2 linked regions of the Homo sapiens genome follow. The gene in region 2 interacts genetically with the main gene of each other region. Each region holds a gene or a part of one and is shown on either strand. Other genes may lie near its edges.

Region 1 (3,825 bases), on a different chromosome or scaffold from region 2:
TTAGTTCACGATGTGGCCTGCGCCTTACTGAGGCTTGCTCTAATGCGCTGGAGGGTTTAATAATGCGATCTGGGACACAGGGAGGCCAGGCTGGCATGTGACAGAACACAGTGACATGAGATGCTCATTAGAGGGACTCTTCCCAATGGAAGCACAGACTGCAATTTGTACCTGAATGACAAGGTAGCGCTGGGGGTCTCGGGCCATTTTGGAGAATTCGATGATCAACTCACGGAACTTTGGGCGACTATCTGCGTCTATCATCCAGCCTGGGGAAGGAATGAGAAAAAACAGTGCAATTAGAACACTGGAAGAAATGATAAAGATGGCATTGCTTAAAGAAGGCATTGGTGATGCGACACTTCCAGTCAAATAAGTGATGAAAGAACCAAGTCTTTGTGGTAGACTTTTCTGTCTTGGCCAGCTAGTACTGGTTACTGTTTAAAGACCATGCCAGCACTGTACATTTGAATCAGAATAACAATAATGCCCTCTAGTTTTTCTACGCCCACTCTTCCTGGGGTCAGCATCCTGTGTTACGCCTGAGGGGATGGAGCAGTGTGGGTCTGTACAATTGCTCTCCATGAACTATCCTGACTGCAGGGTGCCCTGCACCAAGGTCCTCACTCAACATCCACCCTTAGCATTCCTTCAGGTAGGAAACCAGATGCAACTTAGAAAAATAGGCTTTAAAGAATTTGGGGTTGGGACTGGGCCCCTACCCCCGGCGTCTCCAGTACAGCACATACCCAGTGGGCATGCATGCAAGTGAGAAGGCTGGTGGGCATGCATGCAAGTGAGAGGGCTGGCTGTGCTGGCAACTTCCACAGGAGGACACACTGTTAACTGTGCTGCTGCATGTGACTACCCAACAATCTAAATCCAGATTAAACAATTTGGAGGTATGGCTACTGCCTGGAAATCCTCATGCCTCTTGAGGGATCACATTTATTTTCCATCCACAGCATATCAAGCTATTTTAGGCCAGACTGCTATGTGACCTTAGACAAATCACGTGGCTTCTCTGGATCACAGCTTCCTTAGCCCAAACCAAGGAAGTTAAAAAAGATCAACTCTGTGGCCTAGAGTTCAGAAAGGCATTAATATTTACATTAACTTGGCTCTGTCATATTCCCTATACAACTTTCTTTTGCAAATGCTCATCCCATGCATGTAATGCTACCTCCAGAGCCCACTGCACTCGTGAATCTGGTAGAATAATAGCATCAATCAAATTACACACTCTTATTTAGATTGAAATGTTTAAATGCCACACTGCAGAGACTTCACATAAATCCACTGGTTTAAAAGGTTTAAGTCAAAGCAGAAATGTTGACTCTATTAGCCTTATGTTGTTACTCACTGCCATGCATTTAAAAACATTCAGTCTCTCTGGTAACAGGCTTCAAAATATAGGGCAACTCGGTATTTCATTGAGTAACTCAGCGAATAGAATATTTTGGTGTAATGGCTTGCGGAAGACTTTAGTTTTATTTATTTGCTTGCAAACATGGGCAAATGTCAGGTCATACTGCCCAATGAGTCAAGAAGTGTCTTTAAAAGAATGCTTGAAGGGGTATTTACAGATGTTTCTGGATTTGTGTGCCTGCCTTAAGTAATGTGATGACATTTCTCCAGGGATGCAAAGGCCTCAGCTGTTTGGCTAAGAGCAGCCACCAAGGCTCAGCTAGGCAGTGTGGACAGACCCACCAGTCACTCACACTTGACCATGATCATGTAGACATCGATGGTACATATGGGTGGCTGAGGGAGGCGTTCTCCTTTCTCCAGGATGGAGGAGATCTCGCTGGCAGGGATTCCGTCATATGGCTTGGATCCAAAGGTCATCAACTCCCAAACAGTCACCCCTGAGAGGATGAAGCAAGAAAAGAAGGCAGTGGGATCATGAATGAACAATCACAATCCCTTGCTTTAGTCATCATTACTGGTTACTGTTTCTTGATGTTTAGAAACCTACATTTCTGTAGTCTTGGGCAATTTGCTTCAATGCTGGAAGCCTCAGTCTACCTCTCTATAAAGTGGGGTAATAGCAGTATCTGTTTCACAGGATTGCTGTAAGGACCCAACAAGATAATACAACTGAAATGCTTAGTGCAATGCCCAGCAAGTAGTAAGTGACTGATAAGTGGTAAACTTTGGTAATTAACAATAAAGACAACAGTAACTCTACTAGCATAAGTATTATGCTCCAGACAGGATACACACTCAGTCACCTGCTCTGAGGGACCTGTATCTGCAGAATGAGGAAGATGCAGATTCTGAACAGGGCTGTAAACTGCACATTTTTAGATCATAAAAAAATTGGAAATGAAAAAGCTTAAGTTCCATTTGATAAAAATAAAAACCTCAGGAAGAAACTGAATCCCTGAACAGACCAATAATGAGCTCCAAAATTGAATCAGTAATAAATAGCCTACCAACCAAAACAAAGCCTAAGACTAGATGGATTCATAGCCAAATTCTACAAGATGTACAAAAAAAGCTGGTACCATTCCTACTGAAACTATTCCAAAAAAATTGAGAAGGAGGGACTCTTCCTTAACTCATTCTATGAGGCCAATGTCATCCTGATACCAAAGCTTGGCAGAGATACAACAAAAAAAGAAAACTTCAGGCCAATATCTCTGATGAACATAGACATAAAAATCCTCAACAAAATACTGGCAAATCGAATCCAGCAGCACATCAAAAAGCTTAAGCCACCACAATCAAGTCGGCTTCATCCCTGGGATGCAAGATTGGTTCAACATATGCAAATCAATAAATGTGATTCACCACACAAACAGAACTAAGGACAAAAGCCACATGATCATCTCAATAGATGCAGAAAAGGCTCTCAATAAAATTCAACATGTTTAAAATTCTCAATAAACTAGGTATTTAAAGAACAAACCTCAACATATTAGCCATCTATGGCAAACCCACAGCCAACATCATATTGAATGGGCAAAAGTTGAAAACATTCCCCTTGAAAATTGACACAAGACAAGGATTCCCTCTCTCAACACTCCTATTTAACATAGTATTGGAAGTCCTGGCCAGATAAATCAGGTGAGAGAAAGAAATAATGGACATCCAAACAGGAAGAGAGGAAAACAGCTATCTCTGTTTGCAGATGACATGATCCTATATCTAGAAAACCCCATAGTCTTGACCCAAAACCCCTTAAGCTGATAAACAACTTCAGTGAAGACTCAGTTGTACAAAATCAATGTACAAAAATAATTAGCATTCCAATATGCCAACAACAGTCAAGCTGAGAACCAAATCAGGAATGCAATTCAATTCACAATTGCCACAAAAAGAATAAAATACCTAGAAATACAGTAAACCAGGAAAGTGAAAGATCTCTACAATAAGAACCACAAAACACTGCTTAAAGAAATCAGAGATGACACAAACAAATGGAAAAACATTCCATGCTCATGGATAGAAAGAATCAATATCATTAAAATGACTATACTGCCCAAAGTATTTTATAGATTCAATGTTACTCCTATCACACTACCAATGAGATTCTTCACAGAACTAGAAAATACAATTTAAAAATTCACATGGAACCAAAAAAGAGCCTGAATTGCCAAGGCAATCCTAAGCAAAAAGAACAAAGCTGGAAGCATGATGCTACCTGACTTTAAACTACAGGGATACAGTAACCAAAACAGCATGGTACTAGTACAGAAACAGACATACAGACCAATGAAACAGAATAGAGAGCCCAGAAATAAGGCTGCACACCTACAACCATGTGATCGTTGACAAAGTTGACAAAAAAAAAAAAGCAATGAATAAAGGACTCCCTAC
Region 2 (3,825 bases):
GTTGTAGGACTTAAAACAATTACATTTCTGGTCAGTGCTAAGTAAAAGATAGGTGCTTATATATTCTATTTGTCTTATTATTTTCTTAAATGTTTATATTCTCCTAACTGCTTTTAAAATTAGCACTATTTGGCTGCCTTGATCTACAGTGAAACTTAGGTCTTTTTCCTCTCCCATTTGCACAAACTCATTTTTCTTTGATCTGCAGATATGTTTTTTATACTTATGTATGTCTCCTCCAACCTTCTTTCATAATCTAATTTGTTTATTAAACCTTGTTTAATACTTACTAAATTATTAAATTTTTTATTTTTTTAAGCTTTGTTTAATTTTCTCATTTATTTTGCCGTTTTTGAGTTGTAATCACTTACTCGGTTGTACTATAACCTAGTAGTGAACAGTCATTACCTCACACAAAATAAGAACATTTTTTACCCAAATTATTAACAATGCCAGCTAGCCTGAGAACCCTGTGCAATCCCTTTTGCTAAGAATCAGCCACCTTTTCATTGTGTGTTTTAACCATTGGTGCTTGCTTAATTTATTCATTCTGTTAATAAGCTAATAGCATGAACCAAACATTCCAGTTTAAGATGTCAAAGGACCCAAATCAAAAACCCCTTAGAAAAGGTTTTATATTCCCCTTCTCGCTCATCAGTTATTACTTTTCCTTGATTCTCAAGACTTATTACTCTTTCATGGAAGGTAATTGAGTTAGTAGGGGATTTGCTACTTTCCTGAGGCCTTGATGTTTTTTGTCAGTTTTACCACATTCAAAGGCTTTTTAGAGTTTTTCTCCCCTGCCCACTAGTCTTTAGCAGTAAATGGACATCTGATAATCTGTGACATATGATGTTGCTCCTTTTCTTAAGGGTACACATAAAATTTCATTACACAGAATTCCATAGGACATTCTGGGTTTTACTGCAGTAGAATTTTTTTATCCTTTTTGTAATTGATATTTTCCTGGAGGTTAACAATTCTAGTTTTCTGGAACTGTAATTTCCAGGAAAATATCCAGAAAAGTTTAGGAGAAAATTAGTAGGCCTCAAACTTTTTGGAATCAGCTGTTAGTGAAGTTATTTGCTTCAGTTTTGGTAGAGTTTTTTTTAGCAGTTTTAATTTTTCTGGGAGATTGTTTAATCTGATTAAAACAAGTTAAAAAAAGATAATGAAAACCATAAAAACCCCTTGCCTACCCCTCTCTTCATCAACTATGATACAAACTATGCAGATATTTTTTACATGTAAAGTATCCTGAAAGCATTTCAGGCAAACCAGCAAGGCCTATGTAAATAATTTTTATTGTACAGAAGATACATTCTTTTTGAGATAATTAATGTCATTGCAGTTGGCTGTAACCTATTTTAATAACTTTTTTCTGTTTCCTCTCTATTCCTGCTTTTCCACTGAAAAACAAGTATTGATAGATTGACAAAACCAAGTTGAAAGTACAGCCATAGTAGAGGTTAAACTAAAGTATTTCACTATAGCTCATTTACTTGAACCACCCAGTTTTATAGAATAATAGAAGAAATGCTATTTAACCAACAAAGAGCATGTCAGTGAATTATTCAGCTAATAATTATGTATAGAATATTTCACTTAGAAAATGTTTCCTACTGAGTTCATTATATTTTTTAAACTTAGATTAATGATCCATTAGCAGGATAGTGGGTCATTACCAGCACTCAAAAACCCAAAATAAAAATAGAATAGTGTAGAAAAGATCAGCATATGTTGCACACAGTAAGTGTTCTGTGAAACTTTTGCTTCACATAAGTTATGGATATGGAATATGTATTTGTCGCAGTACAAATACCTGATTAAAGTGAAAATTTGAAAGTCATCACCATAGTTCCCAGCCATAAGGAAAATCTACGTAATGTTTTCACACTATGATAAAAATAGTAACTATGATTTATTGACTACCTATTACATAATTAGCACTTTTACACAGTAGCTTTTCCTTACTGTAAATCTTTTAGATTAGATATCACCCCAGTTTTATAGATCAAGAAATAGGTTCAGAGAGGTTATGACTTATCCAAGCCTGGATCCATACCCAAGTCTAACTGGCTTCAAAGCTCCAGACTCTCTCTTTATACCAAAATGATAATGAAACAAAGTATAACTTGGATTCAATCCAGAGGAATCATCTCTAAATCCCAAGGCCTGGGAATATGATGACAACAGTGCATTCATTCATTTATGTATTTATTTTGAGACAGAGTCTCACTGTGTCACCCAGGCTGGAATGCAGTGGCATGATCTTGGCTCACTGCAACCTCCACCTCCCAGGTTCAAGCTGTTCTCCTGCCTCAGCCTCCTGAGTAGCTGGGACCACAGGCACACACCACCATGCCAGGCTAATTTTTTTATTTTTAGCAGAGACGGGGTTTCGCCATGTTGGCCAGGTTGGTCTCGAACTCCTGACCTCAAGTGATCCACCCGCCTTGGCCTCCCAAAGTGCTGGGATTACAGGTGTGAGCCACCGTGCCCAGCCTATTTATTAATAGGAAAATGCTTTGGTGGTCCTTGGGAGTTTATTATACAGTGATAGCTCAATTTACATAGTTTCTGAAATAAAGGTCAATGACATCAACCATGTTTTCTTTTGTTTTTAATTGAAACGTGTGCCTTACTTGGGTATAGAGGAAGATAGGGAGGGTGAGGAAAATTTGTTGTCTTCAGCACTACATAGTTGGCTGTGATACTATTTACCAGGTGGGTATTCCCAAGTTGCTGCTTTGCAGACCTTAAGGTTGAGGGGGCAGCTCTAGGGGTTTAGAAGGCTGTGAAACTACTTGTTTTGTCATCTCCTTTGCTTACAGTTCCTTTCTGGAAATGAATCTCGTGTTAATAAAATTATTTGAATGCCTTTAGAACATTAGATTGTTCTGCTGACATACATTCTTTTTAATGTGTATTGCTGGGCATGATGGCTCATGCCTGTAATCCCAACACTTTGGGAGGCCAAGGTGAACAGATCTCTTGAGCCCAGGAGTTGGAGACCAGCCTGGGCAACATGGCGAAACCCTGTCTCTACAAAAAAATAGAAAAATTAGCTGGACGTGGTAGCTTGCACCTGTGGTCCCAGCTTCTCAGGAGGCTGAGGTGGGTGGATCACTGAAGCCTGGGAGGTTGACGCTGCAGTGAGCCATGATTGCGCCACTGTACTCCAGCTTGGGTGGCAGTAAAACCTTGTCTGTCTCAATCAGTCAGTCAGTTTATATAGGTAAGCTCTTTTTGCAAATGTTAAATTATCAGTAGGTTTTATCTTGTCTTTGTATATAATTGCCATGTTTCATTGGCCTCATCATTAGGTAATTTAACTCCTATAGGCTGGGTGTGGTGGTGCACACCTGAAGTCCCAGCTACCTGGGGGGCTGAAGTGGGAGGATTGCATGAGCCTGGAAGGTTGAGGCTACAGTGAGCCATGGTTGTGCCACTGTACTCCAGCCTGGGTGATAGAGCAAGACCCTGTCTCAAACACAAACAAAAATAAACTTTTGTAAACTTTATCAGAGTATTCAACTGCTAAGATTTTATTTTTAATTTATTCAGCAGTGTGTGAAAGTAAAGATTTATCTGATACAGTTAGAACAGTATTAAAACAAGAAATGAATCGTCTTTTTGGAGCAACGAATCCAAAGAATTTTAATGAAACTTTTCTGAAAAGGAATTCTGATTCATTGCCACACAGATTATCAGGTAATCACTTTATTTTATCCTTAGCCTTCTAAAACAACTTCAGTAATTTTAATGAATCAACAATAATATAAGGTACATGTTTTTAGAATGGAAGAGGCAGTGTGTATATGT

The links.
Region 1: changes in NAA15 (region 2) and EGFR together harm fitness more than expected from each alone (negative genetic interaction), as found in Homo sapiens cells (one large-scale study listed by BioGRID).

What each region holds. Positions count from the first base shown.
Region 1 is NC_000007.14:55,196,760-55,200,584, reverse strand, and holds part of EGFR (epidermal growth factor receptor isoform a precursor), read right to left. Parts: intron 1,869-3,825; coding exon 1,722-1,868; intron 270-1,721; coding exon 172-269; intron 1-171. UniProt on the Homo sapiens protein: Receptor tyrosine kinase binding ligands of the EGF family and activating several signaling cascades to convert extracellular cues into appropriate cellular responses.
Region 2 is NC_000004.12:139,381,265-139,385,089, forward strand, and holds part of NAA15 (N-alpha-acetyltransferase 15, NatA auxiliary subunit), read left to right. Parts: intron 1-3,567; coding exon 3,568-3,714; intron 3,715-3,825. UniProt on the Homo sapiens protein: Auxillary subunit of N-terminal acetyltransferase complexes which display alpha (N-terminal) acetyltransferase (NAT) activity. The NAT activity may be important for vascular, hematopoietic and neuronal growth and development.